Linked DNA regions of Homo sapiens. The protein of the gene in region 7 purifies or fractionates together with the protein of the main gene of each other region. This does not show direct contact. Each region holds a gene or a part of one and is shown on either strand. Other genes may lie near its edges. The genes, in order: NNT, TTC5, LARS2, KATNIP, SLC25A13, ACBD3 and BCKDHB.

The links.
Region 1: the proteins of BCKDHB (region 7) and NNT fractionate together in Homo sapiens (co-fractionation; one large-scale study listed by BioGRID). This does not show direct contact.
Region 2: the proteins of BCKDHB (region 7) and TTC5 purify together in Homo sapiens (affinity purification with mass spectrometry; one large-scale study listed by BioGRID and IntAct). This does not show direct contact.
Region 3: the proteins of BCKDHB (region 7) and LARS2 purify together in Homo sapiens (affinity purification with mass spectrometry; one large-scale study listed by BioGRID and IntAct). This does not show direct contact.
Region 4: the proteins of BCKDHB (region 7) and KATNIP purify together in Homo sapiens (tandem affinity purification; one large-scale study listed by IntAct). This does not show direct contact.
Region 5: the proteins of BCKDHB (region 7) and SLC25A13 fractionate together in Homo sapiens (co-fractionation; one large-scale study listed by BioGRID). This does not show direct contact.
Region 6: the proteins of BCKDHB (region 7) and ACBD3 purify together in Homo sapiens (pull-down; one large-scale study listed by IntAct). This does not show direct contact.

Annotation. Positions count from the first base shown.
Region 1 is NC_000005.10:43,601,902-43,605,979, reverse strand, and holds the start of NNT (NAD(P) transhydrogenase, mitochondrial), read right to left. Parts: upstream 2,801-4,078; 5' UTR 2,686-2,800; exon of another isoform or gene 1,310-2,685; intron 1-1,309. UniProt on the Homo sapiens protein: The transhydrogenation between NADH and NADP is coupled to respiration and ATP hydrolysis and functions as a proton pump across the membrane. May play a role in reactive oxygen species (ROS) detoxification in the adrenal gland.
Region 2 is NC_000014.9:20,285,727-20,288,951, forward strand, and holds the end of TTC5 (tetratricopeptide repeat protein 5), read right to left. Parts: 3' UTR 501-3,225; downstream 1-500. UniProt on the Homo sapiens protein: Cofactor involved in the regulation of various cellular mechanisms such as actin regulation, autophagy, chromatin regulation and DNA repair.
Region 3 is NC_000003.12:45,489,576-45,493,075, reverse strand, and holds part of LARS2 (leucine--tRNA ligase, mitochondrial), read right to left. Parts: intron 1,560-3,500; coding exon 1,276-1,559; intron 1-1,275.
Region 4 is NC_000016.10:27,777,144-27,780,844, reverse strand, and holds the end of KATNIP (katanin-interacting protein), read right to left. Parts: intron 3,236-3,701; coding exon 3,075-3,235; intron 2,965-3,074; coding exon 2,876-2,964; intron 2,272-2,875; coding exon 2,216-2,271; 3' UTR 501-2,215; downstream 1-500. UniProt on the Homo sapiens protein: May influence the stability of microtubules (MT), possibly through interaction with the MT-severing katanin complex.
Region 5 is NC_000007.14:96,179,099-96,182,598, forward strand, and holds part of SLC25A13 (electrogenic aspartate/glutamate antiporter SLC25A13, mitochondrial), read right to left. Parts: intron 1-3,500. UniProt on the Homo sapiens protein: Mitochondrial electrogenic aspartate/glutamate antiporter that favors efflux of aspartate and entry of glutamate and proton within the mitochondria as part of the malate-aspartate shuttle.
Region 6 is NC_000001.11:226,148,742-226,152,241, forward strand, and holds part of ACBD3 (Golgi resident protein GCP60), read right to left. Parts: intron 1-3,500. UniProt on the Homo sapiens protein: Involved in the maintenance of Golgi structure by interacting with giantin, affecting protein transport between the endoplasmic reticulum and Golgi. Involved in hormone-induced steroid biosynthesis in testicular Leydig cells.
Region 7 is NC_000006.12:80,165,671-80,169,170, reverse strand, and holds part of BCKDHB (2-oxoisovalerate dehydrogenase subunit beta, mitochondrial isoform 1 precursor), read right to left. Parts: intron 1,494-3,500; coding exon 1,360-1,493; intron 297-1,359; coding exon 141-296; coding exon of another isoform or gene 114-140; exon of another isoform or gene 1-113. UniProt on the Homo sapiens protein: Together with BCKDHA forms the heterotetrameric E1 subunit of the mitochondrial branched-chain alpha-ketoacid dehydrogenase (BCKD) complex.

The DNA.
Region 1 (4,078 bases), on a different chromosome or scaffold from region 7:
TATTTCATGGCCTGAAATCTGGAAAATTTGTTCCTTCTACTTGGAAAATGGTAATTTGATGTTCAGCAGATCCTTGGCAGGGGCATCAGACATCAGTAGGGCCAAAGCCTTCATAGGCCCATTTCTGTGAAAAATTTCACTTGATTCAACTGTGAACATACAGGGCAGAGATCAGGAGGTCATTTCTTGGCAAAAGCAATACATATCACTAAGTCTAAACCAAATACAAATGGCCCTGAAAGATAGAGAATATTTAAACTATCTTATCATTGACCTGTACAGGTTTATACAAAAGATAATACTCCATCCTAATCATCACATTTTCCTCCATCTTCACTGTAAAGCTCTCATTTATCCATGTGTTCCTGTGGCTTTGAAGCAATAAGAAAAAAACTTTATAACTCAAAATTAGGGGAAAAAAGCACAACTTTTTTTTTTTTTTTTTTTTTTTTTTTTTGAGACGGAGTCTCGCTCTGTCGCCCAGGCCGGACTGCGGACTGCAGTGGCGCAATCTCGGCTCACTGCAAGCTCCGCTTCCCGGGTTCACGCCATTCTCCTGCCTCAGCCTCCCGAGTAGCTGGGACTACAGGCGCCCGCCACCGCGCCCGGCTAATTTTTTGTATTTTTAGTAGAGACGGGGTTTCACCTTGTTAGCCAGGATGGTCTCGATCTCCTGACCTCATGATCCACCCGCCTCGGCCTCCCAAAGTGCTGGGATTACAGGCGTGAGCCACCGCGCCCGGCCCAAAAGCACAACTTTTTAAGCATTGCTTTCATATGTATGTTTAATGTAACTTATATGGGTTATTTCCCCTATTAGATATTAAAATCCTTGAGGGAAAGCACCCAACCTAAAGAGGGAGGATACCACAGATATTTAAGAGAGTCAGCTCTGGATCTGCGGATTGGAAGCCCCACTCTGCAACTTATTGGCTGTGTGACCTTGGGAAGTCACTTAACTTCCCTGTACTTAATTTCCTCATCTTTAAAATGGGGAATAATAGCACCCACCCAGGGTGGTGGCTCACGCCTATAATGCCATCTCTTTGGGAGGCTAGTGGGGAGGACTGCTTGAGGCCAAGAATTCAAGACTAGCCTGGCCAACACAGTGAGACCCCCATTGCTAAAAAAAAAAAATTAATTAGCAGGGCATGGTGGTGCAAGCCTGAAGTCCCAGCTACTTGGGAGTCTGAGGTGGGAGAATCACTTGAGCCCAGGAGTTCCAGGCTGCAGTAAGCCGTGATTGTGCCACTGTACTCCAGCTTGGACAACAGAGCGAGACTTGAAAAAATAAAATAACAGCACCTACCTCTCAGGGTTGTTGCCAGGACTGAGAATATCCTTATCAGCTGTTATATTCACTTTGGTATTACTCTCCCCCAGTGCTTTGCACAACACAGAGGAAGTCAGTATTTTTGACTGAATGAATAGGGCTAGGTGACCTTAAGCCTAAGTACCTATTGAGCACATTTTCCAAGGATTTTCGGAAAATTTCCTTTGAAAAGGAAATGTTTGTGTAGCCTTGTGGAAAACTGATTCTATCACCAAGGTAAGCAGCCTAAGCGCACCTGCTGGAAAGAAGGCAATCCTAAACTGTCTGTTAATAAAAAGTCAAGGTTTACAAATAAAAGGGGTGCAATGAAGAAAAGGGGCACACTTTAAATAAGAAGAGTAGGTAGGCACCTAAGCCCCACGCGCTTCTCCGAATAAGTCTGTCCTACAAGACTCCTGACAAACAGACCACCTAAGGACTGGCCGGCGCCACAGGGTGAATAAAGGACACCGGCAACCATAAACAAGTCACGCTTTTAAAAGCGAGACATACCAGCAAGGACACAATACCCTACTGAGCCAGCTTCGGCTGGCAGGCGCCGTGACCTCACCCAAAGCCACTGGTGTCACGGCTACTGCCACCGGTGCCGTCCCTTGCTCGGCAACTAACTGCCACCCGCTGGCATCTGCACGAGACCGCTATTTATAACCTCCCTAGGAAGCCGATTGGCCACGGCTGCAAATAGTCATTCCGGCTGTTGAGTTTGAACTAGCTCTGCCCAGGTCGCCCTCTCCGCTGTCTCTTCCTCCTCACCAGCCTAGGCCCCAGAAACTTGTACCCACCACCGCCAGACCGCCCCAACTCACACTCACAATTTGTGCTCGCAATCTCCTATGTCCCCAGCCGGACACCCTCTCCGAACTCCCTCAAGGGTCAAGCATACCTCAAGGGCATCCAGCTGCCACCTCTCTGGATGAACCGCCCATCGAAAGTCCTCTATGACCTCCCTCTCCACCACCCCCGATCTTGAGGGCCGAAATGACCCCGTACGACTCTCGCTGTCCCCCAAAGCTGCAAATATCTGCACCTGCACAGCTGCCGCCTCATTCCCTGCCCTCTTCGGGGACCCAGTTCCCAAATCCACCAGCCCACTCCCTTCGACATCGCCCCAGCAGGAGACGAGAAAGGGACACCAAGAGGCACGGTGCTTCTTCCCCACCTAAGCCTGCGGCCTGCGGACACCCCAATGCACCCTGCGCCCGGGACACCGCCGACCCCGCCCCGCTTTGCTCTTTGACAGGTCTCTCTCCCGGCGAGGGCCGTGGTCTTCAGGAAAGGCCCGAGCCCCTTTCCCAGCTGCGCCCTAGGCGCGCGCCCCGGCTGCCCGCACCCGCCAGTGCCGTCGCGCTCACCTGGGCCGGGAGGCTGACAGCCTTGGGCTGTGCCCTGAGGGCCGCGAGAGGACGTCGCGCTGGCAGACCCGGGCTTGGGCCCCGCGGCGCTGCGCCTCCAACCCGGAAGAACAGCCCCAACTCCGCGGCGGCGGGCGGCCACGTGACTGCAGCTCCGCTCCCACCTCGGCCCGCGCCCCTTCCCCGCCCCAGCTTTCTTCCCGCCAGGCCCCCTCCACCCGATCGCCGCGCGCTCTCCGAACCAAAAGGCGACCTCACGAAATGCCCCTTTGAGCTCAAAGGCTAGTTACCCCCAGGGGCCCTTCCACTCTCGGGGACAGGCGAAACCTCTTTGTCTCTGCCTCGGCCTGCGGCCCCCAGCCCAGCCTCCGCGCTTTCCCTCCGCCAGTCCTTGTCAATCAAACCTGGTGCCAAACGCGGCAGCTGAAGTTTTCAGGGACACATTTGCTTCTCCCCTTGAAGAACCAGTTACAAAGCGTGATGTCCTCTCTGGGGTCCCATCAGAACAAAGAAACAGGTAATATAACTCCACTCCGGGTACCTGCCTTTCCTCCAGCTCGCTAGGAAAAATCAGAACTTCTGTAACAGAGAGGACCCAAGGGAAAGGGGCAGGCGGAGAGGGGTTGGTGAAGGGCGGGAATGGGGGGCGTTGATTTTCCATTCTGGCAGGAGAGGTGGAGTTAAATTCCTCAGAAACGATGTCCAGGCTTGAAAAGTAACACACATCTGCGTGCTTGTCTTCCAACATCAGAGCCAGCCTAGAGGAAGCTGGCTAGTGTCACTGCTAGTACGAATATCCCCGAGGCTGGAAAGCATCTGGGTGGAGGTTGTGAGCTTTCCAGACCAGGCCTCGGCTGTTTTTCTAAAACTATTAACCGTAATGACCTAGTCGTTCTTTTCACACAGTTCTGTTACTTATTCTGCAGGTGTATTCTGACTAAAAGTGGGAGGAATAAAAAATAGAGTGTAAAATGGTTCACTTGCCCAAAACTTAATCATCATGAAGTGTCAGTAACGTCATTTATTTCTATTAATTGAAATTTTGATACAAGAAAAATAATTATGAATCTAAAAGGTATAAGCAGAACAGGTATTCCATAACTTTAAAAAGAAATGAGCCGCAGGGAAACCCTTAGTTTGAGAACTTGTCTTGTGATTAACCTACACAGAAGGTCATTCAACTAATGGATTCCCACTGCAGTCCAAACTCACAGACAGGAAATGACACAGCCCCATGTTTTAAAATAATAATGAGCCGTGGTAAGTGTGACCATAGGGACGGTTTCCAGATACTGAAGGTACAATGAAGTGAGATTAGTAATGATCCCACTTAGTAAGGATTTTAAACTAAGTTATTGATTTAAAACTTTTTGTAGGGGTCAGGAGTTGCTGC
Region 2 (3,225 bases), on a different chromosome or scaffold from region 7:
CACACGTATGTTTATTGCAGCACTGTTCGCAATAGCAAAGACTTGGAACCAACCCAAATGTCCAACAATGATAGACTGGATTAAGAAAATGTGGCACATATACACCATGGAATACTATGCAGCCATAAAAATGATGAGTTCATGTCCTTTGTAGGGACATGGATGAAGCTGGAAACCATCATTCTCAGCAAACTATCGCAAGGACAAAAAAACCAAACACCACATTTTCTCACTCATAGGTGGGAATTGAACAATGAGAACGCATGGACACAGGAAGGGGAATACCACACTCGGGGAACTGTTGTGGGGTGGGGGGAGGGGGGAGGGATAGCATTAGGAGATATACCTAATGCTAAATGATGAGTTAATGGGTGCAGCACACCAACATGGCACATGTATACATATGTAACAAACCTGCACGTTGTGCACATGTACCCTAAAACTTAAAGTATAATAATAATAAAAAAAAGAGAGAGCATTAAGAAAATGAAAAAGCAAGCTGCGATTTGGATAAATATATTTGAAAAACATAATTTATAATGGATTAGTATCCAGAACATGTAAGGAATCAATAAGAAGACAACCCAATAAAAATTGGACAAAAGAAAACAGAGATTTCATAGAAAAAGAAACAGGAATGGACAAAGAAATGTAATTTATGCCTACTATGTGATATTTTATAATCATCTGGTTGGTAAAAATTAAAAAGCTAGACAATTTCAAAAAAAGAAAAAGACAGACTGGGCTTTAAAGATCAGTAGGGAAAGGATTGATTCTTTAATAAAAGGTGCTGGGCTATTTACTCATTATGAAAAAAATTATATCCGTACATAACATAAAATAAAGTCATACTGTAAGAAAAGGACAAAATAACTTCATAAAGCAGTAGAGGGAAAATGTCCTTATGACTTTAGGAGAGCTAAGAACCTCTTAAAACACAAAAAGCATTATCATAAAAGATGGATAAATTCAATGACATTGAAATTAAGAACTTCTGTTCAGCAAAAGACCCAATAGAATAAAAAAAAAAACAGGATAAAACTGTATGTAGACAAACGATTAGTACAGGGAATATATAAATCAATTTGACATCCAATACAGCAGTGTGCAAAGACTCGAATAGGCATTTTACCGAGAGAAAATATTAGTGGCTTCTAAATATATGAAAAGATGCTCAAGCTCATTAATAATCAGAAATGCAAATTAAGGCCACAAGGAAATAATACTCAAATCTCCTGTATTTGCAATACCTAAAAGATAATACCAAGCACAGAAGAGGATGGGGAGCATTGGGGTGACTCATCTATTGATAGTAGAGACATAAACTAATATAAGCACTTTGGAAATGTTTAGTGCTTCTCAAAAAAGTTGAACATGTATATACTCTATGATCCAGCAATTCCATTCTATGTCAATACTCTTAAACAGTGGTTCTCAAATTTTACTGTGCATCAGAGTCACCTGGAGGGTTTGCGAAACACAGATTGCTGGGCTCCTCCCACATAGTTTTGAATTCAGTAAGTCTGGGTAGGGGGCTTGAGAATTTGCATTTCAAAGAAGTTCCAAGGGATGCTGATGCTGCTGGTCTGGGAACCACTCTTCAAGAGCCATTGCTGTAAAAGAAACTTTTGCACTTACATATCAGGACATATACAAGAATATTAATAATGTAGTGCTTTGGTAGTAAAAAAAGAAAAACTGGAAACCCAAATATCCTTTAACAACAGGATGAATAAATTATGGTATAATCATACAATGAGATTTATATAGCTGTGAAGACAAATGAGATCATGGAGAGGTATGCAAGGGCTTCCAAGTTATCAATGATGTTCTAGTTTTTAAGGCAGGTGGATATTTTATGGGTATTCTAGTTATTCCTGAAACCGTATGTACAAATTTTGCATACTTACTTGTTTGTACGCACTGCTTCTCTGTGGCTACCACCTACTGGCCATTTTTCTACTCTCTAGCCCTACACAGAACATGTCAACTCATCTCAGAATTTGAGTAAAAGGGGAACAGTATTTGGGTCCCACATCTCTACTGCCTCAAATGTTTACACATACTACTACCCCCATCTTCCCTAGTTGCTTTCAGCCAATTCTCAAGTTATTTTTATACCCCACAAGCTCCTAATCACTCTTCTATGACTCTAGGCCTCAAAATGACACCCAAAACTAATTTAAGACTCCATATGTGGTATAACAGACAGTACTTCTAATAAAAACTGTCTCTTGCTACCATAGGTTTTTTTGGTGCAGTCCATGAAGAGTGTTCTTGCAAACTATATCAGACTGGTTACTCATACTGACTTTAGCTTATCTACTAAGATTCTTAGTAATATTCATATATGATGTTGAAGCTATACCTGAGAATGTAAGCCTTTTTGGACCAAAAGAATGGACTGAAAATTTTATCTTATTAGACTCAGCCTTTATGACTTCTTAGATAGAGACAGATAGATAGATAGATAGATAGACAGATAGATAGATAAAACTTCTCTCATCAATGCATTTCTACCATCCATTCTCTGAGGAGGCCTCTGCACTCTTTATAAATTTAATGAGTCATCAATGATATTCAAGGCACTGATCAAAAACTGAACAGGACTGGACCAAGAACAAAGATCTGAGCCATTTCACTAGAAGACTTCTCAATTCATCTGTATACATTAATGTATTACAGCCATTCAGTTGTTGTTGCTGTTTGAGACGGAGTCTCGCTCTGTCGCCCATGCTGGAGTGCAGTGGCATGATATCGGCTCACTGCAACCTCCACTTCCCAGGTTCAAGCAATTCTCTGCCTCAGCCTCCCCAGTAGCTGTGATTACAGGTGCCTGCCACCACGCCCAGCTAATTTTTGTATTTTTAGTAGAGACGGAGTTTCACCATCTTGGCCAGGCTGATCTTGAACTCCTGACCTCGTGATCCACCCGCCTTGGACTCCCAAAGTGGTGGGATTACAGGCTGAGCCACCGTGCCAGGCCAATTCAATTGGTTATTAATCCTCACTCACATTTCTCCATTTTACCACAAGGATATTAAGATAAACTGTTATAAAACATGTCACTAGACTCTAAAGAAACTGAGGATTTATCTAACTCTCTCTGGTCCTTCAGCCTAGTAACACTATTAGAACAGTATTGCTCTGTCATCTTGGACCATAGTGAAGACCACCCCTAGGGAATGACAGAATGGGAAAATGGAAGAAAGCTGGTCTCTAGCA
Region 3 (3,500 bases), on a different chromosome or scaffold from region 7:
GGCCTAGGTTCTGCCCTCCAGTAATTCTGCAGCCAAGCAGGAAACCTTATCCTCATCAATAAGGCCACAACTGCTGTGCTGTATGCAGGCCACCAACATCTCTGGTAGGGAAGCCCTTTGTCAGCGCTTATCAACAAAGAGGGTGTGCTATTTTCCTCCTGGAGCCAACATTTCTACCCTAAAATGGTCTGGGCCTTCCTATATACCTCCCTCCAAGTTCCACCTTGAATTTCAAAACTGCCTCAGTGAGGACCTGGGAGGATGGCTGGCAAGTCCCTGGCTGGATGGCCATAAAGTTTCTATTTATTGAAGGCCTAGAAGGTATCACTGTGCAGGATCACATGTGTTAATTCTAGTCTTCTGAAAAGCCCTTCAATGGGGTTATTTTTGTTCCTGATGAGGGATTTCACGCTCAGAGAAGGTAAATGACTTTCCCAAGGCTAGACAGTTAGTTAGGAGGCAGAGCCAGGACTTGAATCCATCACTGATTTGACACCCAGCTCAAGACTTCCAATTACACTACGTGGTTACCTAATTGTCAACCTAGTAACTCAGCTCTATACTGGCAGAATACAAAATTATTTTATAATATCCTCATCATGATCTATAAGGCAGAGAAAAATGGCTTCTCCGCAGAAGAAGGAAAATACTGGAACTTGGTATCTGCTATTTGTTTAATTAGCTGATATGGACAGCATCATTAAAAATCATGCTTGAGACATGCCAGTGAATAGACAGAAAAACATAATCCCACTTCCAAAATGAGGAGAAAGGAACCATGGTGCTTCAGCATATTAAAGAATGCAGCCCTGAGCACACTTGCTCTCTTAGCAACTACTCTGCTACTCATGATAAAATCTCCACTGTTGTTACAGTCACTATATTGGAAAACTGCAAGGTGGAGAAGAGAACATTTTCTCCCCTCTCCACGTGGCTCTTTGGAATATCAAAATGGAGGAAAGTGGTTTTTTACAAAGCTGTAAGGAAAATTTAGAGCTTTTCCATCAGTTGGATCAGATGTTTCTGGGATAGATCTGAACTGACACTGCTGCTTCCAACAGCTCAGAGAAGGGAGGATGCCCATTGCAGAGGCAGGGCCACAGATTCCAGACCCTTCTCTTAAAGGGCCCCAAAGACCCACAGTGTTCTTTCCAGCCTCATGGAAGTCAGGGAAAAAGGGAGCAGAGTTAGCACCAGGAGGGAGGAGGCTGTCTGAAGCCCTAGCAGGTATGGGGCCATAGGCACAGTCACCACTGCAGGGATGTGGCTCCTTACCTTGGGCAGGAGCAGTTCACCCACTCTGAAGCCATGGCCAGTGGGGGGCCTCCCTTGCCAGTGAAAGACGCGATGTTGGGCAGGGTCACAGGCAAGTCCTCCAGGGGCACAGGTGTGGGGCCACAGACTGGGCAGTGGACAATGGGGATTGGTGTGCCCCAGTACCGCTGCCGTGAAATCAGCCAGTCTTTCAGTTTATCACTTGTCACGTCTCCACCCACTCTCTTCCCCCGGGCTTTCTGAGTCAGGGCTAGAAAAGCATCCTGCCGGGTCATACCTGTGAACTGACAGGGAAAGAAAAGAAAGCTCACTCCTCTCCGCATAGCACCAGTCACCACCCTGATGCTGCCACCAGTCCTGCCATGTTTATGTGTGGCTCTCCCAAGGGACCAGTTCTGTGCAGAGCTGTGTCATAACTTTCATGAGCCCTAGGTGCTTCTGCCTTTGTAGGCTCCTTGCTCCTTCAGATAATATTAAAAATTATATTTTACAACTGCATCAATATAAAGACAAATATAACTTTTGACCCTAAAAGTTCATTTTTTTCTTCTGATTTTAAAAGAAATTAAAACTTTTGCAGAGGCCTCTAAAAGTATTGTGGGCCCTAGGCACTGTGTCTACTGTGTCTAATGTGTCTAAGTTGGCCCTGGTTCTGTGGCTTGCTTTATCACCAGAGCCCTGTGACACCTACAGAGATCATCAAATATCAGCTTTTAGCTGCCAGTACAGAACTGCACGATATGGATTTTTAATGACTACTCCCCTGTTGGGGGGAAAATATTCAGAAAAGAAAAATCCAATATTATCCTAAAGCAGAAGGAATTCAGGCAAGCAGAGGAACATTCTGAGGCTTCGGCTTGAAGAACCAGACCACTCTTTTTATATTTAAATGCTCCCGTTTTATAGACAGCAGGACAGACCACTAACAGTACAAAAGAGAAATTATCTTTTCACTTGGTGCTTTTCAGAGAGCCAAACTAATTATATGAATTGAGCCAGTGTGGCTTGGTAACAACCTGGATTGCGGGTACCCTCGCATTTGTTCAGTGAAGACCCACTGGGCATCTATACGTGCTGGGCTCGTGCTAGCCATTGGGGCCACAAAGATAAATATGATCTTCCCATGTCCTCAAGGAGCTTACAGTCAAGAGGCATAAAGAATAAGAAAATACAGCTATGTTTATCAAAAGCAGCCCTTTTCATGAATGGTCTGAAGTGTCTTTCTGCACTCCCATTATCACAGTCGTGATGCAAATCATAAAAAGCTCTCCTGAAAGTCAGTCTTCTCCTAACACCACTGTCTTTCCATTCCAGAAGCTCATAGATGAAAGCGGCTTTTCCCCAGCCATTCTCCTTCTACTTATTGAAATAATTATTTTACTCTAGATATTCAGCCTAGAGCCAGGAGAGGCTTCAACAGACCATCTGAAGCTGTGTGAAAGAAGCCAGGAAGCATAATTAATGCTCAGAGTACTGTACTAAAGAGTGGATGCTTCACTAGGCACTTCAGAAGCCTAATTTTGGCCACAAGTGTCCCCTTTCTTGCCCTGTAGAGGGTTAACTGGGGCTCCTTACAGACACTGTGATTTCGCTCTGCTCTACCTCCAGGAAACCTGCTCAAACAAGGTCTAAAAAAAGGCCTAAGGGTCCATATCTTAGAGCATGACTCATGTCTGGGGATGCAGTTTATGAAGTAAAGCCACAAACATGGGGTTATAAAACATGGACTCCTTACAAAGGAGAAAACCTGACCATTATTCCTTTATTCTATAGATATAAATATAGCCAGATAGTCACAAACCTGAAAAACTTGGATCTTCAGGTCTCACTGAATCAAGATCAGCCAAGATGGGACCTGTAAGCACCTCCCAGGTGATTCAGAGCCATGGCCAGGTGTGGCATCACTATGTTAAGTCAGTAGTTCCCAGACTCTGCTGCACATCAGAATCAACTAGGGAGCTCTGAACACTATTGATGTCTGATCCATGCCCCCCTCACCACCAATAACCATCAAATCGGAGTATCTGGAGTGAGACCCAGGCATCAGTATTATTTTAAAACTCTCAGGTGTTTCCAATGTGCAGTTAAGTTTAAGAGTGCTCTAAGCCAGTATTCTCAAACTTCTAATGTGCATACAAATCATATAGGGATCTTATTAGACTAGGGTGGGATCTAAGACACGTGATGCCAGTACTGCTGGTCCAGGGACCAGACATTAAGTGGCA
Region 4 (3,701 bases), on a different chromosome or scaffold from region 7:
GGGTGGGCAGGGAGGAGGTCCAGGAACTGGGGGTCTGGGGGCCACCATTCCAGGATCCACACATGGTGAAGGGAAACCCCAGGGCCAAAGACCCAAGTGTTGTCACCCCCACCTCAACTCTCCAGGGGCCCTCTCAGGATTTGTGCATTGGCTAATAGCTTCCAAAGCTGTGTGTCCCAGGAAAGCTGCACAACCTCTCTGTGTCTCAGCTCCCTTATCTGTAAAGTGAGGATAATAATAGTGCCCACCCCAAAGGGTTGTGTTACGTGGATTAAACAAGTTAGAGCCAGGCATGTAATCACCACTCTCTATGGATGAGCTACTGTTGTCTGCTCATACGGCAGGACAATCTCATTGAGTAGTCAGGGCGAGATCATGACCCCATCTGCAGCTCAGTGAGGGCTTCTCTGTGTCACTCAGCTCCTGGAGGCAGCATGGACTCCCCATCTGACCCCAAATCCGGTGACTCGGACTATATTCTTAATAACATCTTTTATTAATTTTGCAAGAGGAAAAAAATAGAAATTTATTTTAGAGTTAAAGCTTGTACAGCCTTTTTTTCCCCTCCTAAATTGCACAGTACATACGATTATTATAAACATCAGCTGCGGTTCTGGGAGTGAGCTTGTGTCGTGTTAGTGCCATCTCCCTGACAAATCTGACCTGTACCCACATCTCAGCTGGGAAGGAGTAGCTGGGCCTCCCTTTAATGCAGCGGCACTGGTTTGGGTCACAAGAGCTGGTTTGATCAACCCCTGACTCCCCCTGGCGGGAGGTGCTCGTCACATCTGGGAGCTGAGCAGAGGTGCCGGGGGCTTGGAAGCTGGAGAAATGATGGATCTTTCTCCAGGAGAAACAATTCTTATCTTCACATCAGCCCCGTGCTCCAAATGAAAAGCGCGTTTGCATAGCTGCTCGAGCCCAGGCTGCTAAGCTCATGAAGTATTTGCCGGGGCTCTCGGTTGCATAGGAACGTACCTCGAGTACAGTACTGCGGCGGGCCGGGCTGGGCGCCAGAAAAACAACGGATTAATATTTGCAACGAGAAATTACCCACTACTGGGAAACCAATTAGGTCCCTGATCCGAGCTTGTTACATCGATGCATATAGATGCGTTCTGGGCTTCACTCGGCTGGGGGTGCAAGGCACATTTCCAACTCGCTGGGAAGTGGCTGAAGGGGGAGAAGGGGTGGGGGCCTGGGAAAGGAGCACCTCACTGCCTGCCTCCAAGGGCACAGGGGCAGAGACAGAAAGCAGCCACATCAGTGAGCACAGCCGTGATCAGACCAGGAGGGACATGTGGCAGAGAGTGCAGGGAGGGCCTGCTCAAGGGTGAGGGGAGATGGGGGATTGTCCTCAGTGTTCCCCAACACCTGCATCCAGAGGGCACTGGGGTGAGTTCTTCTGGCCCTCTGGGGTCTGGAGCTGCCAGCCTGCTGGCCACCCACCCACCCTTCCTGGCCCGGCAGCAGCACGCAGATGATACCCTGGCCTGCCAGAGTGGGCCCAGCTCTTGCCAAGGTGGATGGCGGGTGGCCCAGCTGACTTCCTTCCCTCTGCAGGATGCACACAGCCTTGGCCAATCCCTTATCAGGCCCGATGAGAGGAGAGAGGCCCCTATACCGGGATGAGAGAGGGTCTTGTGGACCCCTGTAACCAGGAAACTACCCCAACCTCTCAGCCAGCTCCACCAGTCCCCAAATGAGACAAGGATGCGCAGGGGATGGGGGGTGTTGGCCGCTGAAGCTCAGGTTTCTGAAGGCAGTCTCCCTGGGCAGTGCCCTGCTTACTGGAGTTGCGGGGTAGGGTCTGGTCTCCCACTGTCCTGCTCAGCCATTCTCTGGGCCCTCTGAGGCTGGATGGGATGCCTCCCCACCCCGTCATTGTCCTGTTCTGAGTCAGGGTCAGCCCAGGCCCTAGTGGTCATGGGCCCTGCTTTGCTGGGTCTCACAGCAGAGGCATGAAGGCGGGTGTCCTGGGCTCCCTGTGGCCAACCCAGAACTGCAGGGGATCTCTTTGCCCTGCAGCCACAGCCATCTGTCACTCTGGTAGTATCCAGGGCTGTCCTCCCGAGTCCCCTCTTCCCAGCGGGCTCCCCTCAACACTGTGGTTCGCTTCCAGCTCCTGGGACTGAGGGTGAGGGACGCAGGCACTGAGTGGGGCTGCTGACGGAGCCCACCATAGTGGGAGGACCAGCTCTCCCTCCTTCACCAGTCAGCAGCGCCGTCGTCTCGTCTCCTTCTCGCTGATGCAGGTTTTGGGACGTAAGGCTGTCATGACAGGGAACAGAGGGACCAGAGTTACTAAGTCTCAAACCCTGGAGGGGTGCCCCACACTCCCCAGTGAAATCCAGCAGCCTGGGTTGCCATTCAAGGCCCTTGGAAAAGTCCCTGCTCTCGGGGCGCCTGGCACGCTGGCCCCTTCCCTCCGCCTGGAGCAGGCTCTGCCACAACACCCCTCTCAGCCTTTGCCCAGGCTGCCTGGCACACTCCTCACATCCTTTAGGATCCAGCTCAAACATCACCTCCTCCGGGAAGCCCTCACCTTGGGCATCCTCTATTGGTTTCCCACGGCCCGGGGCAAACCCCTTTAACATGGTGCTCTGTCCCTGACTGCTTCCCCACTCTGTGCCCACGACACTTAGATTCAGGAAGCTCCACTGTGTTACAGGTGCCTGCAAGAAGATGGAAGCATGTTGCTCCCCTGGTTCCATCCTCTTCAGTCCCTCCCTAGGCCTTTGGGCAGGCTCCTGGGCAGAGGAGAGCGGTCTAGGGGCAGGCAGGGGTGAGGGTGGGGGTGCAAGGCCACCAGCTCCTTCTATATTCAGACCGAGCTCCCAAGGCACAATGCTCTGGGCAGAGAAACGCCACTGACCTGGGTCAACAACGCTCTGCTTCCGTTTCGCGTTGGTAATGATTTGGTTTTCATTCATCATCTGGACATCTTGATCCTCGGCCTGATTACTGAGGGTAGGAAGGAAACACAAGATTCGATCAGGCTCCTGGCCGTGTGTCCCAGCCATCCATCCTCCTTAGGGCTGGTGGGGAGGCCATGGGGCCGGCTGGGGCCCTACCTGATGGTGGTGTGTTTCTCCTGGTGGCGGATGTCCCTGTCCTCGGTGAAGAGGATGGTGTGGTAGGGCACGGTGGGCTCACATGTGGGCAGGATGCCCCCCACCAGGTGGCTCACCATGGCCAGGATCCCATTGTACACAAGCAGGTCGTCCACCAGGAGCTGCAGGGACACGGGGCAGGACTCATGGGTCCCCCTCGTCCCTCCCACGTTGACCTTGGGCAGAACGCGTTACTGCTCTGAGCCAAGGCTTTCTCCTCGGGAAGACGGGGCTGTCAGGAACAAGCGCCTACTGTGTGCTGTGTCTGCCTTGTGATTTCAGATCTTCACAACCATTGGGAAAGGCAGGAGCTATCAGCATGCATTGCAGATGAGGAAATTGAGGCCCGAGGGGCTTTAATACCATTAGCACAAGTGGCAGAGCTGGAGGCAAACTTGGGTCTCTGGTATCCAGGGTCCCTGTTTTCCCCATCCCAGGGTCACCGCCCCAAACCAGTGGGATTCTAGAGGAAAAGACGAAAGAAAACCCACTTTCTATTTGCTCAGGGTGACACTGAAATCACTGCCAGCAGGTTCTGAATTCATGGTTGGGTGGGAAATTCGCCTGCATCTGACGACCAGGCATTTG
Region 5 (3,500 bases), on a different chromosome or scaffold from region 7:
TATGATTATGGTCTGGAAAAAAATCAGTTCCTCAACTCCTCTATTCTGGGGCTTTCTAGAAGTAAAGAGAATTGGGGAAAACGATCAGATACTCCTGCAGTTTTTCACCATAGTACATGAGAACGTTCAGGATCCTGGTTATCTTTTCTTCTATCTAAACTATTTCCCTCCTACTGAGGTTTAATCTATCTCCCTTGTTTTAGTCTCAGCAACAGTAGCTGGTTATAAATTATCATTTTTGAGGTGTGGAACTAATTCATTCATTAACCTCTTCTCTAGGATACCTACACGTCTATCTTTTTGTCATATTTTTCCAATTTTCTAAGGTCATCAGTTGTTACTGTAGCACTCTCAAGTCTCTAACAATTCTCTCACCCACCTTAGATCCAGTGTGTGTCGCCTCAGTCTCAGATTACAATGCCCTGTGCTCACTAAAGTTAGCTCACTGTAGATTTCTGGAGATTGGCTAACCCAACAAATGATCTGTTGAAATCTTCTGCTCATTCTTATGTGGCTTCCTATAACCAAATACATGTCTTCTGATATTTTTATAGCTTAATGCTCTAAATGAAAACGTGCAGAAATTGGCCAAGAAAATAAAGACTCAAACCTATCCATTTTGCAATCATTAAAAGTTTTGGTGGACATGGATGGACATGAGTGCAGTTCACAGATTAACTATGGTTTGTTTCAAGATGCATGTGTTCTTAAGTAATGCAAAACAGTCATGGAAATTTCAATCATTTTATTTTGGTGCCAGAATTTTAAAGTTTATTTTATCCCCATGAATTATGCAAGAATGAAGAATCTCACTGTGATTCTAAAGAATCTGGATACTCCCTTTTATAGTACCATCAATGATAAGGGACCTGGCTTAAACTAGCTGCCTGCCAAAACTTCCCTCTGCAATATAAAAGTATCAATAACTCCCTGAGATATCACCACAACATCCTCTAGATGTCACCTTGAGAACATTCCAGGATGGAAGATGACTGCTTTGCACTACACAGACAACTTGAAATAGAAATATTTACAACTCTGCAAGCTTGGATCAATGGGCTGATTAAAAAATGTGGTTTTTTTTTTGCCAATTTCCTCAAAGGTTAAGCACTGCTTAAATTAAGTTTAATTCATAAAATGATCTAATTACTCTTTCTGGGAGATTTTCTTTAGGGCTTCTCCCATCAATAGAAACAAAAATTTTCGTCTAAGAAGTATTTCTGATAGACCCTGATTTCTATCTCTTTTTTTTTCTAAATTGAGACAGAGTTTCACTCTTGTCTCCCAGGCAGGAATGCAGCGGCACAATCTCAGATCACTGCATCCTCCTGGGTTCAAGCGATTCTCCTGCCTCAGCCTGTAGCTGCGATTACAGGCCCGCCATTATGCCCAGCCAATTTTTGTATTTTTAGTAGAGACAGAGTTTGGCCATGTTGGCCAGGCTGGTCTTGAACTCCTGACCTCAGGTGATCCACCCGCCTCGGTCTCCCAAAGTGCTGGGATTACAGGCATAAGCCACCGTACCCGGCCATATTTCTCTTAATACATCTTTTTCCCCAAGATTCTCCCAAAACATTTTCCAGTGTCTAAGGCTGCTCATCTCATCACCTGAAAGATCTGAGAGAGAAGACTGCAACAAAGTTTAAAAGCAGAAATTATTTATTCCTGGAACATTAAGAGCATTTAATTATGGATGATTACCCAATCAATTGTTGTTCTTTAATACGCCAGATCTATAGCAGGCCAATGACTGATTCATTTGGTTATGCCAGTCATTCAAACCAAACAAGTTGTCAGGTAATTCATTAAGGATTTCAAATACCTGAGCACATTAAATCACTCTGAAGACTGGGGAGGAAACAGAGAAAGAATTTTAAAAGTGACTTCAGGAAGACCTGGATTATCTCAGGTGTGATTTCCCTTAATACAGACAGGCTTGGCCTGGGGGTTGGATTTTCAGAAATAACAACAACAACAACAACAACAAACTAGGAAAATTTGCCATTTTCTTGTTAGGAAAAAAGTAGTTTGCACTGTAGAGAAGGTTTGCAGAGCCAGACTCATGGGATTTTTAAGGAGCTCTTTTCCAGCAACTAAAACTTACACAAAAATAGGAGAGAGGCTCCTGGAAATAAAGAAAACGGAGTTATACCAATACATGGAGAGCAGGAATTAACCAACTCACAACACCTCTCATGACTCTCTGAGGTATATTTCTATTGAAGAGCACTGCTAGGCACTCTCTCATGACTACCAAGCAACTTCCACAACTATTCTGATGCAGCCAGCTGCGGGGGAGGCAAAGAACAAAACTTGTGGTGGAGCACTACAAGAGTTCTTTTAAAATAACCTTCATTCTAATGCCACAGGGAAAGGCTTTTAAATGCAAAAACAGCTTCTGATATTCTTGTTATAAGAAAAAGAGATATTTATTAACCTCATAATAAGATCGCATGCTACAAAAACACCTTCTTTGAGGCCAGATGCCAACTTTTTTCAAAGTATACACAAAGGTAATTTTAAAGTAGGAGAAAGATCTTACAACTGCAACATTCCCAAATTATCTCATTCAGGAAATATGAGCAATTACATAGGCCTTGATAGAGAAAAATTACATGTTGAGCAAAATTCTGTAATACTAAAAACTATGCTCAATATTTAAAAACATGTATGAATTAAAGATGTACTCTGATACCTTCTCAAATATTGCTAGGTGAAAGCATTAATAGCAGCAATACTATATTTTCCTAATTTAAACGTAACAGTTTTCCTCTGGAATAATATAATTTTAAAATAAAGTTACATTTTATGAGAAATGTACAAAGAATCACATATAGGTATTTCATAATGTGACTTTGTACATAAAGGTGATAATACTGAGTCTCAGAAATATGTCAGGTCTTTTTTACTTATATTGTAATTTTTTAAATTAACAACAATAACCATGAGTTACCTACATTTTCATCTGATCTCTCTTACCCAATAAGCACTTACAAATATGCAGTTATATACAATTATTAATTATTGATGATGTACAAGAAACTAAAGAGAACTGATCCCTGACCAATCAAGAATAGGAACAAGTCATTTTCATGGCAAAGTTATGTATCATTATTATTTTAACCTGAACTGTCAGTCATCATTTTGCTCTCAAGATGATCCAAATTACAGAATGGGACTAAACAAAAATTTTACAGTAAATTTTTTGTTTTAAAATGGTTTACCAGAAAAGATATCAGGAAGAAATGAACACAGGTGACTCCTAGAACTAATCTTATATTCACACTCTACTCATCATCCTGACAGACAGCTCTGTCTCTTGCCCTTAAGGTTGGGGCACCCAAAGATAAATGGCCATTTCTAAACCAGGAAAAGGGTGAAGAGCTGCCACTTGGGTGTTTACAGTGAGCCTCTGTCTGTACCTAATATATTGACTTACTACTCCTCTGAGAAGTTAAAAGCAGTCACTCTCATCTTACAGATAAAAGAACTGAAACGGC
Region 6 (3,500 bases), on a different chromosome or scaffold from region 7:
ACCAAACCAAAACCCAAAAAACTCAGACTCTTCTACCATATGAAATACAAGACACGGTAGGACAGTAGCTTCTAAGGCATATGGACAAATACAATTTGTGAGCTAAATCTTTAAATGGGATGAAGTGACGCTCATGTAATGAACAATTCTTAGGAATGATAAAGCTTCACTGCTGTGAGGCTAAAATGTTTTAGCTGCAAATCATTTTATGATTAGGAATGGTACAAGTACAGGGAATGCCATCTTTCATTTGAGGGACATATTAGAACTAAGATCAAGGATATTAAGGTTCTTACCTCTAGAAATGAACCCCTGCCATTTTCACTAGTGATCTTCCCAACACCAATATAACCCCAAAACTATCATCAGCTGAGGGTTCAGACTAGGCAGTAACCACCTTTTAGAAGCTCTCTAATAGGCAAGCCAGGAGAAATACATTACCTCAACCAACTTCTGAACAGAGAATTCTTATTCACAAAGCTCTTTCATTTTTTTTTTTTTTTGAGACGGAGTCTGGCTCTGTCGCCCAGGCTGGAGTGCAATGGCACGATCTCAGCTCACTGCAATCTCCACCTCCCGGGTTCAAGCGATTCTCCTGCCTCAGTCTCCCAAGTAGCTGGGATTACAGGCATGTGCCACCATGCCTGGCTAATTTTTGTACTTTTAGTAGAGATGGGGTTTCACCATGTTGGCCAGGCTGGTCTTGAACTCCTGACCTCAGGTGATTCACCCACCTCAGGCTCCCAAAGTGCTGGGATTACAGGTGTCAGCCACTGCGCCCAGCCATCTTTTTTTTTTTTTTTTTTTTTTTTTTTTTGAGATGGGGTCTGGCTCTGTGGCCCAGGCTGGAGTGAAGTGACTTGATCTCAGCTCACTGCAACCTCTACCTCCTGGGCTCAAGCAATTTTCCCACCTCAGCCTCCCAAGTAGCTGGGACTACAGGTGCACACCATCACACCCAGCTAGTTTTTTGTATTTTTGGTAGAGACAGGGTTTCATCATGTTGCCCAGGCTGGTCTTGAACTCCTGAGCTCTAGCAATCCATCCGCTTTGGCCTCCCAAAGTGCTGAGATTACAGGCAGGGGCCACCGTGCCTGGCCTCACAAAGCTCTTTGTAAGTACAGTAATTTGTATGCATACAAAAAACTTTCCTTCCCAGACATCTGCAGACAGTCTGACTTTAATGAGTCCCTGTGATGCAACAGAAAGGACAGAACAGGTTCTGATGTTGTTGAAGGTCACATGAGAAAACAGTAGTGCCCCCTGGCTAATCTGCTACAGTCCTGCTCTCTAACTGCTTTTTATTTTTTTTAATTTTTTTTTTTTTTTTTTAGAGGGAGGGCCTAGCTCTGTCGCTCGGGCTGGAATGCAGTGGTGTGATCATATAGCTCACTACAGCCTCGAATTCCTGGACTCAAGCAATCCTCTTGCCTCAGCCTCCCATGTACCTGGGACTACAGGTACATGCCACCACACCCACCTAACTAAAAAAAAATTTTTTTTGTCGAGATGTGGTGTCACTCTACAAAACGGGTTGCCCAGACTGGTCTTAAACTTCTGGCCTCAAGAGATCTTCCTTACTTGGCCTCCCCAAAAGCTGAGATTACAGTCATGAGATACCATGCCCAGACAGGCTTTTTCTTTTTTTTATTTTTGAGACGGAGTCTCGCTCTGTTGCCCAGGCTGGAGTGCAGTGGTGTGATCTCGGCTCACTGCAACCTCTGCCTCCCAGGTTCAAGTGATTCTCCTGCCTCAGCCTCCCGAGTAGCTGGGATTACAGGCACCCACCACCACGCTCGGCTAATTTTTATATTTTTAGTAGAGACAGGGCTTCACCATGTTGGCCAGACTGGTCTCGAACTCCTGACCTTGTGATCCACCCACCTCGGCCTCCCAAAGTGTTGGGATTACAGGCGTGAGCCACCGCGTCCGGCCCAGGCTTTTTCAATCTTACATTTTTTCTTTCTGTCTCAGTCAGTATTATTTATGAGCAATGCTTTGCCTTGCTGGTGGTACTCAGGAATAAAGACTGATGAAAACAAAATGCCGTGTAAGACAAAGCAGCTCATGCTTCCATATTTACCAGCTAGAATCTGGACCTGTGGTATAATGAAGGATTTTAAATCTGCTTCTGGGGTAAAAGTCAATCTGCAAGATGTACTGAAATTTCTGGGATACTCTGATGGTTCATGTAGATAATGATACGGAATTATCTTTGGATTATCTTTTGATTAGCATTAAATATTAACTGTTAAATTGAATATTAAACTTAATTTCAAGAAATGTATGGCACACCTGCAGTGTATGTTTCTGTAGATAGCCCCAGAGGCCCCAGGGTGTTGCATGGTATGGTAATATGATTGGACAACTCTGTACTTCACAAGTTGATAGAACTTTCAGGCTTATTCCATGTACTTTCAATAATATCTTTTTAACTTTATCCCACTGTAATCTGTAAAGCAACATTGCCAACCCTCTTCAAGAACAAGCAGTCTGTTTACAAGCCACCTGAAAGGTCAGTTAGTCTGGAAGAACTGAGACATGGTGCTTTTCCATTCTCACAGGGCATGCATTCCATATCACTTTCAATCAAGTCAACAAATAAATTAAGTGCTTATTAAGTGTATATAAACAAACCCTACATTCTAACTTTCCTGGGTAACAAAAATAAAGAGACCCTCTTCTCAAAAAGCAATACATTTATAACCTATTTCTTAGACCAAGATATTTTAGACTGTCCTTTAAAACACCCAATTTTGTCTACTTATTCAGAGGAAGTAAAAAAATTCCACTCTAGCAAAATAGGGATTTCCAAATGGAAAAATAATTGAAATTTTTTTAAGTGGACTATTCTGGTGAGTTTCTGTATTTACATAAAAAATTTTAGAATAATGACCTAAAATGCTAATATCAACAATATAAATTTAAATAAATGCCAGGGTTGACAGGAATTCTTACTTGCTCCTTTAAAATTTTTCAAAGTGGGTCGGGTGCTGTGGCTCACGCCTGTAATCCCAGCACTTTGGGAGGCCGAGGCGGGTGGATCACAAGGTCAGGAGTTCGAGACCAGCCTGACCAACATGGTGAAACCTCGTCTCTACTAAAAATACAAAAAATTAGCCGGGCACAGTGGTGCGTGCCTGTAATCCCAGCTACTCAGGAGGCTGAGGCAGGAGAATCGCTTGAACCTAAGAGGCCGAGACTACTGTGAGCAGAGATCATGCCACTGCACTCCAGCCTGGGTGACAGAGTGAGACTCTGTCTCAAAAAAAAAAAAATTTTTTTTGAAGTAATCTTGCATATTTGGCTTTTCAACACACACGGTTAGAAGTAAAATAGTATTCAGAAAGGAGTAAAATAGCAAATTGCCAAATAGATTTTCCTGGCATTCAGAAAAATTCAGGTTTAGGCCCCAGTCCCCTACAGGAGCCTGGCCTCATAACATTTTCAGCCCAAGGTCCCACTAATGAAGAAAGTGTTCCCTAACCATGAAGTGTTAG
Region 7 (3,500 bases):
TTCTTAAATACAGTTAAGTTCACATAAATTCCAAGAATCCTGTTTGTTTTCTTTCCTCTAGATAAGCATAGATATTAAATAGAATGAATCAAAATGGAAACATCAAATAGAAATCAAATAAAGTACATAAATGAACATACCTTGATTCCTGGGCAATGGGCAAAAAATGCTTCAGGACTCTGAGAATGATAGAGAGCCCCATGACCAACACAGCCCCAAGGGGACCGGATAGTGAGGCTTCCACAGTTAAAAAGATCCCCAGAGCGATAGCGATACTTGGCAGCTTCATTAACAATCTGAGGGTCAGAAAGAAAGACGGGGCATGGCACAATGAGTCCTTCCCTTCCAATCTCCTTCCGTTCTTCCTCCCTCCCTCCCTTCCTTCCTTCCCTTCCCAAGGCACAATGAGTCTTTCCCTCCCTCCCTGCCTCCCTCCCCCTCTTCCTTCCTTCCTTCCTGCCTGCCTGCCTTTCTTTCCCATAGCACAATAAGTCTTTCCCTCCCTTCCTTTCTTTCTTAAGACAGGGTCTCGTCCCTCCCTCCCTCCCTCCCTCCTTCCTTCCTTTCTTCCTTCCTTTCCCATGGCACAATGAGTCTTTCCCTTCCTTCCTTCCTCCCTCCCTCCCTTCCTTCCTTCCTTTCCCATAGCACAATGAGCTTTTCCCTCCCTCCTTTCCTTTCTTTCTTGAGACAGGATCCCATCACTCCCTCCCTCCCTCCCTCCCTCCCTCTCTTCCTTTTCTTCCTTCCCTCCCTCCCTCCCTTCCCTTCTTTCTTTTTGAGACAGGGTCTTGTCTTTCCCTTCCTCTCTCCTCTCCTCTCTCCCCTCTCCCTTCTTCCCTCTCCCCTCTCTCTCGCTCTTTCTTTCTTTCTCTCTTCTTTTCTTTTTGAGAAAGGGTCTCATTCTGTCACCCAGGGAGTGCAGTGCTGCGATCACAGTTCATTGTAGCCTTGGACTCCTGGTTTAAGTTATCCTCCTGCCTCAGCCACCAGAGTAACTGGGATGACAGGTATGTGCCACCACACTGGGCTAATTTTTGTAGTTTTTGTAGATATGGGTTCTCATTATCATTATGTTGCCCAGGATGGTGTTGAACTCTTGGCCTCAAGTGATCCTCCCACCCTGGCCTCCCAAAGTGCTGGGATTGCAGATGTGAGCCACTTCACCCAATCCCAATCTATCTGCTTAAACTATTCTATTAGATCTTTAAATATATGCTCATAACAAAATTATAATTGTAATACATTAGTAAAAGGATAATAAAATGTTTAGAATGCAGGTAAGGGTGGGTGGAAGGGTAGCGGCAATACTTGAATATTTCAATGAATGAACAACCTTAGAAATGTTCATTCACTTACCTGATCAAATGCAGGGAAAATATAATCTGCAAACTGAATTTCCGCAATGGCAGTAGCTCCAGTGACCGCAATTCCGATTCCAAATCCAACAATTCCTTGTTCACACAATGGGGTATTAAAAACTCTATCTTTTCCTTAAAATAGAAAAGAAAAAAAGGTTAATGTGGCAAATGAGAGTAATGTCATGCATAATACATTTAAAAATTCAGTAAACTAATAATGGGATGGAGAAGTATAGAACAGGTAGAGGAAACAGAAAATAAAGAGTATGGCTAGCCACGGTGGCTCACACCTGTAATCCTAGCAGTTTGGGAGGCCAAGGCAAGAGGATTACTTGAGACCAGGAGTTCAACACCAACCTGGCCAACATAGTGAAAACCTGTCTCTATTAAAAAAAAATAGTAAGGTGAATTATTTAAATCCAATTAATAATTGTATTAATTGTAAGTAATCTAATGTTTCAATGAAAATAAAAACTGTCACACTAATTTAAAAGAAAGGAAAACCCAACTATTTGAAAGGAAACACAAACTCTAAAGACAGAGAAAGGTTGTTAAAAAAAAGAAAAAAGAAGGAAAAAATAGACAATAAAAAACCTAACCAAAAGAAAGTTGATGTCACTATATTAATAGCAGGCAAAGTAGACTTTCAGGAAAAAAACATACCAGAGATAAAGAGGGAAAACGCATACTGTTAAAGGGTTCAATTCACAAGAAATAAATAATTCTAAATCTATACTTATCTAACAATGGGCTCCAAATAAATGGAAAAAAGCAACACAACTAAAAGGACAAATGGACAAAATCACCACATAGTGGGAGATGATTTTTTAATGTACTAGTCTTAATAACTGACAAAAAAGGCATACCAAAAAAAAGGAGGGAGTGTGAAAAATAGAGATGATTTAAACATGTTCAACAAACATGGCCTAACTGACATACAAAGGACACTGCACCCAGAAGCAAAGAATACAAATCCTTTTCAATTAAACAGAAAACACTGACATCAATTGACCATATACTGGACTACAAATCCAATCTCAACAAATTTTAAAAGATGAAAATTACATATATTCTCTGACCATAGTGTAATTAAGTTAGAAATCAATAAAAAGATCATTCAAAAAATTCTTATGTTAGAATTTTTTTTTTTTTTGAGATGGAGTTTTGCTCTTGTCACCCAGGCTAGAGTGCAATGGCGCAATCTCAGCTCACTGCAACCTCTGACTCCTGAGTTCAAGCCATTCTCCTGCCTCAGCCACCCGAGTAGCTGGGATTATAGGCGCCCACCACTACACCCAGCTAATTTTTGTATTTTTAGGAAAGACGGGGTTTCACCATGTTGGCCAGGCTGGTCTCGAACTCCTGACCTCAGGTGATCCACCCGCCTCGACCTCCCACGGTGCTGGGATTACAGGCATGAGCTACCGGGCCTGGCTAGAAATTTTTTTTAATAAATAGCTAAGTAACTCACAGCTCAAAGAAGAAACTATAATGAAAATTAGAAAGTGGTATTTTAAATTGAATAATAATGAAAAAACTATACAAAATATCTTATTGAGGTTCTGAACGTAATGTCAGAGTTGCGTTTTTCAGACTATCCTTTCCACATTTAATGATTATAAACTCTGGGCAAAATAAAACAAACAACTATTTAAAGGCATTGAAGGGCCAAAAGTAGGCATAAACTGGAGTCTTGACTCTTGAAAGAAATTAAGCCCAGTGGATGACCATGACGTTCATAAGCCTTGTCCTGCAAAAGGACTCCCCAGTCTATGAGTCAGGACAGCTAAAATTCAAACAAATAGACTCAGTCTGGTTGATCTGAGGTGTCAGAAAATAGTCTGTGGCTACCAGTGGTTGAAAATTGAGAGACTAAATCCCTAAAAGAAGGGCACAGCATGGAGGAGCCCCAAAATCTGTGCAAAAACTGATCAAATCCTTGCCAACACTTGTGCCCACAGGACACTCCAAAAGCCCAGCAGCAAATAATCTCTCCCAGTTAAAAGAGCTGTGCCCACCAACAAGGAGGCAGATTTTGGAGTTTGAGACCCTTCAAATTAGAGAAGTTTGATAAACCCTTTAGACGATCCATTCGAACCACTAGGTACAATTTTATTAGCGTATAATTCAATTCTCACT